Homo sapiens: one gene and its partner. The protein of the gene in region 2 interacts with the protein of the main gene of each other region in a biochemical or structural test. Each region holds a gene or a part of one and is shown on either strand. Other genes may lie near its edges. The genes, in order: MEP1A and GNRH1.

Region 1 (7,310 bases), on a different chromosome or scaffold from region 2:
ATGAGGACACTGTACTTATCAAGGTATTTAACACAGAGTAAGCACATAATGGCCAGCCCTTAGTTTTGTTTCTTAATGTTATCTGGTATAAAGATCAACTAATCTCATAACCAAGGCATATAACTTGTAGTGTCTCATCCATACCTTTGTAACAATTCCAGCCTTTGTTTCAAACATTCCTACTAGAAGGTCTACTCAGCAGAATTCTACAGAGCAGAGTGAAACAATTAGAAGTCAGCATTTTCTGGTTGGGCATGGTGGCATACGCCTGTAATACCAGCACTTTGGGAGGCCGGGTGGATCACCTGAGGTCAGGAGTTTGAGATCAGCCTGGCCAAGATGGTCTCATCTCTACTAAAAATACCAAAAAAAAAAAAAAAATAGCCAGACATGGTGGTGGGCACCTGTAATCCCAGCTACTCGGGAGGCTGAGGCAGTAGAATTGCTTGAACCCGGGGGGTGGAAGTTGCAGTGAGCTGAAATCGTGCCATTGCACTCCAGCCTGGGTGACAAGAGCAAAAACTGTCTCAAAAAAAAAAAAAATAAGAAGTCAGCATTTTCTTTTACTAATCCTGAATGATTTTACCTTCCAAGGCCTCATCTCTATCCTGAGAATTGACTTCTTAGAAATCAGTGAGTAATAGCAAGTTTATTTCATTTTTTTCTGACCCAGTCCTCTCCAAACACAACTTAGTGATATCCCCTAGTGTTACCTTAGAAAAACTTATTCTGCCAACTCTCAGCTGCAGGTTTCTAGGAGAGCAATAGTTTGGCTGAGTGGAGGCTGACATACAAGTGGCAGCCCTGGCCTCCCTTAGCCTGGGAAGGATGAAGCCTGTTGGGGACACATAATGGAATCTGGCATCTAAGGGCCTGTCAGGCAAAGATATGCAGACCTATGGCTTTGGAGCCCAGAAACAGATGGGCCTTCCCCAGTAAAAGGAACCAGAGGGCTTCTTGGAAGAGTGATTGATTCTATGGGTGGGGCAGGAAAAATTAAAGATGAGCCTAGAGCATGTTATGGTGCCAGAAAGTAACATTGTGTTCATAAAATCTGATGTTGAAAGAGCACAGGAGCCAACCTGGAAGAGCTCCCAAAGGCCAAAGCTGGGACAATAGAAGCAACAAAATAAATCATGAAATTATTGCAACAGAGCCCACTGAATAAAATTAATGTTTATGATTCCTTCGTGATGTGAATAAACAATCACATAAACAAATTAACGGGGTGAAGGTGCCATTCTTCTTTACAGGAGATTATAATTAATGAATGTGAAGGATATAGGAAATCAACATTAGAAGATCTCAGTGGTGAGTATTGCAGCAGGATGTGTCAACAGATGCTGAAATTAGTGTGTGAGGATTTGAGGAAAAGCAGAATGTCTCCATGGTCTTGGAATATCTCTCCCAATATACGTATTAATTACAGAGGGAGAAATGGTAACTCTTCAGTGGAGAGGCCTGGTGGACATGCTGTTGGCCAGATAATGAAGGTTGACATCACCAGTAATGACATGTATAGGCATCATGTACCTGTTCACACGCTGCAGCGAGAAGGCATAGCACATCTTTACTAATCTTGCCACAAATGTGAAACTTCAATCTAATCATGTAAGAACAAGATGAACCAAAAAAAAAAAAAAAATCCCTGACCAGTAATCTTCGAAAGTGTCAAGGTAATGAAGGACAAGAAAGAACTGAGGAATTGTCCCAAATTGGAGGGGATTAGGAGACAGGAGACATAAAAGCTAAATGTAATGTGAGATCCAGAATTGGATCCTGAAATAGAAAAAGAACATTAGTGGGAAAACTGGGAAGAGCTGAATAAGGCCTGTAATTTATTTACTAGCATTGTACCAATGTTCATTTCTTGGCTATGCTAATTGTACTATGGTTTGTGTAATATGCTAACATTAGGGAAAGCTGGGTGAATGGTATAGAGAAAACCTCTGTAGTATTTTTGCATTGTATCTGTAAGTCTAAAATTATTTCAAAATAAAAGCTACAAAAAGAGAAAAAAAAGGAGACTAAAAAGAACTCAGAAGAAATGTAAATTTTTGAGGCAGGCAGAATAGCTTCTACATCTGCTACTGTTCAAATGGAACTGTTGCTTCTGTCATCACATACCTCCTTTTGTGAAACAGTTTTTAGGGTTTTATGCAAGCAAACATTATAAAAAGAACTATAAAATATAGCAAACTGTGCTGCCAGACAGACCTAGATGCAAGTCCCAGCTTCAGCATTTTCCATCTGGGTACATTTTAGATAAATTACTTAATCTTTCTAAGCTTCAACTTCTTGACACACTAAACGGGGATAAGGAGAGCCCTTATGTCACAGGTGGCAGTGAGAATGAATTTAGATCATGCGTGTAAGATGCTCAGGAGACTACATGATGCATAACAAGGGGTCAGAAATATCAGGTGTTCTTACTACTATTATTGAAAATATAACTGTAATAATAGTACAGTGTAAATGACAGACTATAGAACTAATAATAATTAGGAACTAATAACATCTGTAGTCAGCAAAGATTTAAGCTTGGTCTTGAGACCCACCCTCATGGAGTAGAAAGTCCCTAGGCTAGAAGCCATCTTGGGTGTTGTTAGAGTTAGAAATTCCAACAACATCCAAGATGCTGTTGACAATACCCCAGAAGAGGGGAAAAGGGGTGAAAGTCAAGAGACAAGGTGACCTGGGAAGCCTCTGTCCTGGCAGCATAAGCCCATGAATCCAGGGCACACCTTTGTAGAGTCAAAGAAAACCGCATTCAGTTGACCATCTGAGGTAGTCTTCGCCCTACTCTGCAAACAGCAGCCTTTACCAGGAGCAAGCATGCACACGGCCCAGGTCTGCTGGCCTGCCTGTCTCCCCAGCCACAGAGCCTACCTGCAGCTCGCCATCCCCTTCACGTTCACACAGATGCCGTCATTTTGGCAAGGGTTTGGGTCACATGGGTCTCTGAAGTACTGTGGCCAGTTATGGTCCTCCAGGGGGCCTGTGTTCTCCACCGACCGCTTCTGTCGGCTGGGCTGCCCCTGGCTCAGGCTGACAGGTAGGGCTTCCTCTAACATGGCCTTTCCCGAACCTTCTTCGGAGACCTGCTGCTCCTGGCCTTGGAGAATGAGGCCTTGGGGGCTCAGTCTTTTGCCTTTAGTGGGAACTTCAGTCTGGCTGAGGTGGGTGATATCTTCAGGAAATAGAGAGTCATGAGGAAGATCCAGGATTAGTAACTGACTACAATTAACTCCCACTTCTGGTGAAAGTTCCCCAGCCTGCTTCTATCTCCCATCACCCCTAGTGACATGGAAAAGTGGCTTTGAATCCAGCTGATTCCCACAGTATTAGCTACTTTTATTTTAAAGTAATCCAGTCACATTTTTATTTATTGAATTTGCAAAATGAAGCATAAAATTAGCATGGATAGGCTGATGGAAACTAAATTGAAATCAGTGAACGGTTACCTCTGATAAAATTATCAAAAAGATGACACTAAAATTTCAGTTTCTTTCAAGGACAATTAAAATAAAGATGTGAGTCCTTGACCAATTGAATAAAATGTGATTCTCCTACAACACATTGTTTTAACCTCATCCCCACCCTCCGTGTGTGCTTTAAAAATCAGGATAAAATCAGTAGAGTGCCAAGAGCATAGGATTATTTACTCAGGAAGACCAACAAAAGTACCTTCAAAGTCCACAAATATGATGAGGTCATCATTTTTCAGGAAACTCCTCCTTTTCAGCATTTGGTGGGAAATGAAACCACTCCAGCCCAAGTCGATGCTTCTAAAACAATTACAGTCCGTATGATAGGTTCCCACCCTGGACGGCCTGTCCCAGATGACAGTGTCATTTATCGCTGCAAAGTTGTAGGTAACATAAAATCACATTACCTCTTTAGACTTCACTTTCCAGTTTGTCTTTAATGAGGATACAGGGCTTTGTGAATCAGAAATAAATAAATAAATAAATAAATAAATAAATAAATAAATAAATAAATATAAAAATAAAAAAAGTGTTGGAAAAAAATTAGGCTATTTACTATTTCCAGGAGAATTGCAATTCAGAATTGAAAGATGGGAGAGGCAGAGAATCACAGCTCTGAGTGATCAGTTGTCTGCTACTGAGCGACTTTCTTAATGAAAAGAGAGGGACAGCTACGGCTTCTTTCTTCTAAGGCTTAAGTCTTCTCTTTTGAAAAAAAAAAAAATTAGTGCCAGGCGTGGTGGCTCACGCCTGTAATCCTAGCACTTTGGGAGGCCAAAGCGGGTGGATTGCCTGAGCTCAGGAGTTCAAGACCAGCCTGGGCAACACGGTGAAACCCCATCTCTACTCGGGAGTCTGAGACAGAAGAATTGTTTGAACCTGGGAGGTGGAGGTTGCAGTGAGCCGAGAATGCGCCATTACATTGCAGCCTGGGCGACAGAGGGAGACTCCATCTCAAAAAAAAAAAAAAAATAGTTTGCCCATTTCTTTACTGATGTAAGTTTACTTCATGAACATAGTAACATTGAGTACTATTTTAGGAGTAAGTACATTAGCTCTGCACAGAGCCCAGCAAGTTCCAAGTATTTGATAAATGATTAGCAGTATCTATTTCCTCAATCACAACGAGCTCAGTGAGGCAGGGATCACCTGATTCACTTGTATTCTAAGTACCTAGCACCGACTTTGGCACATGGTAAGCCCTCAATAGATGTTTGATGAGTGAATTTAGGAAAGGGAAGGAGGATGTGATGGCATTGAAAATCTTGACTTGAAACTCCAACAAGACTATGTTATTGGTATTCCCAAACAGACAATGTGAGGAGAACGTTACTCTTTCTTGCACCACAGAATCACATCTGTGGGCCTCTCTGGTTCAAGGGGCAGTTCTTATTTGCGCTGACACCACCCACCTGGAGATGTGTGCGACTTCGAGGTAGTGAACACCATGCTTGAGGACATCCTGTTCCGGACATCAGGCTCCTGGTCAAGGATGGTAATTATCACCTGTCTGTTTTCTACCGGCCACTCCAGGATAGCATCGTTCTCCCCACTGCACACATGAAAAGCAAGTCTCAAGTAACCAGAGCTTTCTCTGCTATTTGGGTATAAAGTTACCCCAAAACCATATCCCTCCGAATTGTAGAATCGAGGGCTCTGAAGCTTGTCCCCTTTGCTGGTGTTCTCAAGGACTTGGGAGAAATTCCGGACTGTCCAGACCCCTGTGGGGCAGGGGGTTTCTGTCAGAGTGATGTCATCTAGGTAAATTCCCCCAGTTGAGTTCTGAGGGTCGCCTTTTGTGCCCTGGAAAAGGTAGCGAAACTTCTGTTCCTCTTTGAGCACCACATGGGCAATTTTCCAATTGTGGTCATCATCTCCTGAGGACAGAGAACAAGGCTGGTGAGAACTGTGACCAACACTTAATGAGTACTTATTATGAGTTTGGCACAGTGCCATGTGCTTTCCATAAATTATCTCATTAAATCCTCACAACAGCCCTATAAAATAGGTACTGTTATAAACTGGTTAAGTAACTTTTCCAAAGTTACATACCTAATAAGGAAAAATTGTTTTTTAAAATACTATGATTTATTTTAAAATTCACATTCAAATCTTAACCGTGAATTTGTTTTCCACTATAAGAATCCAGGTTCTGGATTTCCTCCTGAGTTGGCTGGTTCAACTGTAACCCCTAAGGTTAGCAAAGAAAACCCAAGTGTTAGGCTGAATCATATAAAATAGCCATTTTCTAAGCCAAAAGTAAAAAAAATAGTAACTCCATATGGTCCGACCTGTCACTTGTTGCCAGAGAGCTATAAGGAATGCTGAAGAGCAGATAATAACCTGTAGGACTGACTGGATCTTCCCTACCTAAAACTGACTCCCTCTCCAACATCTAGACTTTTTTCTCTTCCTTATATTATCTGAAAGTCCACCATGTAGGGGAGCAAAGTAAGCCAAATAGAGTACTATTGTCTGGAAATGCACGTTCTAATAAAGATTAGGTCTACTTGCTTTTTCTCTGAGCATGAACTAGAAGTGGGACTTTCGAATTAAGAGCTGAGGAAAGATGGTGAGAAGGCCGTTCTAGAACATAGGATCCTGGGTTGAACAGTATAAGAAGCCAGACAGGAGCTTGGGGGTACTGGAGAGAGGAAACTGCGAAAGCAAAGCAACTCAATTCCGCAAAGAGATGTGCCTACACTGATATTTTTGCACAGGGTATTCCCTAGAGTTGGGCTTGAAGAGGAGAGGAAAAATGCTTCCAAGTGGAAGTCATGTTGGCTAAACTGAGTTCCTACAGATGAGTGTCTTTTTTCCTTCTTCTGTGTCTTTTAACCAGATATCTACTTATAGAACTATACTTTCCCTGAAAAGGAAAAGACCTTTAATCTCCCTTGTGTTTTCAGGCCATTCTCTCTAAGTACAACTTCAAGGGACAGGTCTAACAATGTTCTGTTTCTTAGGGTGGAGCTGATTATGGCCTGTGTGGTTAGGTTACATGGGAACACAGGAGAGAGGTAGGTTACATGGGAACACAGGAGAGAGGTAGAGAAGGCACACGACCACCTCTGTAACATACAAATCTAGGCAGCTGCCCTCTCCTGCGGAGAGCATGGCAGCCTAGTGGAAGACACATGGACTTGAAGGGTAATAGGTGCCAGAAAGTCTAGGAATAGGAACAGAGATATAGGATTTGAACTATTTATCCAGCAGGTTATAGATCATGGGAATTCTGTCAAGAGAATAGGATTCTGTTCTTGCTGATTAGTACCTGCTTTGTTTTTTCTTAATATAGGATGTCAAAATGAGGTTGAGATGGGGGAATCTGGCACTGGGAAGGAGACCCAAGAGGCTATACCACATAGGCAGAAATTCATCTATGAAATTATTAAGATGGTTTCGTTTACATGCTTCCACAGGGCTGCCCTAAATCAGTCAGGCAATAATGCTACTACGATTGTTTGAGACAAATTTAATCCCTGTTAGTTCAGAATTGTCTTCTATAAGGAAGTCCTGGCCTCAGTAAAAACGTGTGTGTGTGCATGTGTGTGTACATACACATAGTTGTATGCCAACATTTTTCATGTAAGTTTGTATATAAGCATTATGTATGTAACATATATTATATACAGATATGCATATGGAGACATTTTGTGTGTAAGTGTTTTGGTCAAAATATACATTTTGCAAAACTTAAAAGCTATTCAAATTGGTTGCGACTGTCTTAAGTTGAATATCACATAAACAACACTAAGTGATATTCAACTAACCTTTTTGAAAAGTTTCATTGACAAACCAGTATCAGAACAGACTACTTAA
Region 2 (2,814 bases):
AAACGTTTTTTTGTTTGTTTGTTTTTTCTGAAGTTGAATTGAAATCTCTCTGTAACTTTTATCTCTTAATCCTGGTTCTAGCTTTTGGGATAACTAACAAAACAAATTTCTTCCCACTGCTGCATTTCATTTCTTCAAGTAAAATCACCAAACCCCCTAGACTACTCCACTCCAGGCTACTCCACAGCCCTCCACCTGATCCTGCAACTGTGCTTTATCTTACATGGTTTTCCAGAACCTTGGGGAATAGAGACATGAGAAACACTGCTGTAGATGGGTTTTTTTTTCTCTTCTTTGGAATGAAAAATGCCAAACTACTAAATTTATAATTTAGAGAGTGATGGACTTGATTTCCAGTTTCCTGATAGGACAATAATCACCTCCAAATTCCGCCCCCCAAAATGGAAATACACTAATCATATTAGGTTTTTGATGAAAAAGTATAAAGAGAATTGAATGTATAAATTGAATCTTTTAAAAAAATTATTTGTTGAGACAGGATCTTGCTCTGTTCCCCGGGCTAGAGTGCAATGGTGCAATCAATGCTCACCACAGCCTCAACCTCCCAGGCTCAAGCAATTCTGGAGACTAGATTAGCCTCTCTAGTAGCTGGGACTATAAGCACTTGCCACCACACCCAGCTGATTTTATTTTTTAATTTTTTGTAGAGACAGGGTCTATGTTGCCCAGGCTGGTCTCAAACTCCCAGCCTCAAGATCCTCCCAAAGTGCTGGGATTAAAGGTGCAAGCCACTGTGCCTGACTTAAGTTGAATCTTGGATTCAATGTTGATATTCTCTGATCTCTATTGTCCACTTATCTGCAGCAATCAGAAGGCATTACAGTTAATGATCAGTTATGCCTAGGAGCTGGGAAAGCCCAAATAAATCATATATAAAAATAAGCTGTAATTTTAATTGTCTACAGTGACTTCAACTTAATATACCCACAGAACAAAGAAAAAAGTGGGCAGACGTCGTTATTTCCTTTTTCGTTTTTTTTGGAGTGCAGTGGCGCAATCTCGGCTCAATGCAACCTCCATCTCCTGGGTTCAAGCGATTCTCCTGACTCAGCCTCCCGAGTAGCTGAGATTACAGGCATGAGCCACCACACTGGACTAATTTTTGTATTTTTAGTAGAGATGGGGTTTCACCATGTTGGCCAGGATGGTCTCAATCCCTTAACCTTGTGATCCGCCCACCTCGGCCTCCCAAAGTGCTGGGATTACAGGCATGAGCCACCACGCCCAGCCTATTTCCTTTCTTTTTCTAATCTTGCTTACTGCATTACAAAAATGGCAAGCAGTGAAATTTGTCAAACATGACATTATGAAGAAATTGAAGCAAAGGCTGGTTTAATAGCAAAGTAATTGACCAGACTTTTTTTTCACTTCCTTCCTCACAACTCATCCTTAAACTATTAATGTAGATTTTATGTATATTAAGTGCTTAAAAAGACCCAATCGGCCAGGCACAGTGGCTCATGCCTGTAATCCTAGCATTTTGGGAAGCCGAGGTAAGTGGATCACTTGAGGCCAGGAGTTCAAGACCAGCCTGGCCAACATGGTGACACCCTGTCTCTACTAAAACTATAAAAATTAGCCAGATGCGGTGATGCATGCCTGCAATCCCAACTACTAGAGAGGCTGAGGCACGAGAATCATTTGAACCTGGAAGGTGGAGGTTGCCATGAGCTGAGATCATACTACTGCACTCCAGCCTGGGTGACAGAGTGAGGTTCTGTCTCAAAAAAAAAAAAAACCAGAAAAACAAACCCAATTTATCATGTCTCCCTAGCACTAACTAGAGCACAAAATCAAACAGACCAATTCCTTCCAGACTGATATTTTAGAAATTAAAATGTCAAAATGTAATGAAATTCAGCTGGTAAAGTCAGTCTTGATATATTTGTTATATATTTTTCAGGAAAGTCTGATTGAAGAGGAAACTGGGCAGAAGAAGATTTAAATCCATTGGGCCAGAAGGAATGACCATTACTAACATGACTTAAGTATAATTCTGACATTGAAAATTTATAACCCATTAAATACCTGTAAATGGTATGAATTTCAGAAATCCTTACACCAAGTTGCACATATTCCATAATAAAGTGCTGTGTTGTGAATGAAGTGGCATACCTGTTAAATCTTTCTCCAACTCAGAACTCCGGGGGAAGGATCACTGTAAACCCACCAAAGGGAGCCCTCCATGTGTGTATACAGGTGGCAGATGGGAGGGCAGGTAAGATAAAGTGTCTGTTGTTGACAAAAGGGATCTCAGGCTCTCCAGCACCCATACCCTGCATCTACCCACAAGCAGAACAGCCACATACTGGTCCAGCCAGAAAAAGCTGATTCAGCTCCAGTTTCTCTGGGATTATAACTTTATCTTCGACCATACTCTTCAGAAGTTGAGGTGGGGCCACGGCCAAGGCTTTCTTCCACTTGGAAAGAAGTTCCCTCCCTTGATCGTCTCCAAACCCTTTGAAAGTTTACTGGAACCCAAATGAGGCCTGGGGGTAAGGAGAGGGGGCCTCCAAGGACTCCTAGTCCAGCGCTCCTTCTGGTCCCACGCAATCTATCCAAGTGGTGCACACTGAGGGTTGGGACTGAGACCTAAAAAATAATAGAGTGTTCATCTGCTTGATCTGTTTGGTTTGCATTTAAGAAACACAATGGAGTACAGACAGACCGTTGGAGATGGGACTCTATTGTTCCTATGTCCCCTGGTCAGATAGCATTGCCACCATTCTTTCTCCAAAAAGACCAGGGGCAGGCTTTGTGCTACATATGTGCACAGATATTTTTACTAACCAT

Evidence for each region.
Region 1: of the proteins of GNRH1 (region 2) and MEP1A, one has a biochemical effect on the other in vitro, tested with the Homo sapiens proteins (one study listed by BioGRID).

What each region holds. Positions count from the first base shown.
Region 1 is NC_000006.12:46,831,129-46,838,438, reverse strand, and holds part of MEP1A (meprin A subunit alpha precursor), read right to left. Parts: intron 5,366-7,310; coding exon 4,901-5,365; intron 3,862-4,900; coding exon 3,688-3,861; intron 3,191-3,687; coding exon 2,890-3,190; intron 1-2,889.
Region 2 is NC_000008.11:25,418,571-25,421,384, reverse strand, and holds the end of GNRH1 (progonadoliberin-1 isoform 2 preproprotein), read left to right. Parts: intron 1-1,924; coding exon 1,925-1,966; 3' UTR 1,967-2,127; downstream 2,128-2,814. UniProt on the Homo sapiens protein: Stimulates the secretion of gonadotropins; it stimulates the secretion of both luteinizing and follicle-stimulating hormones.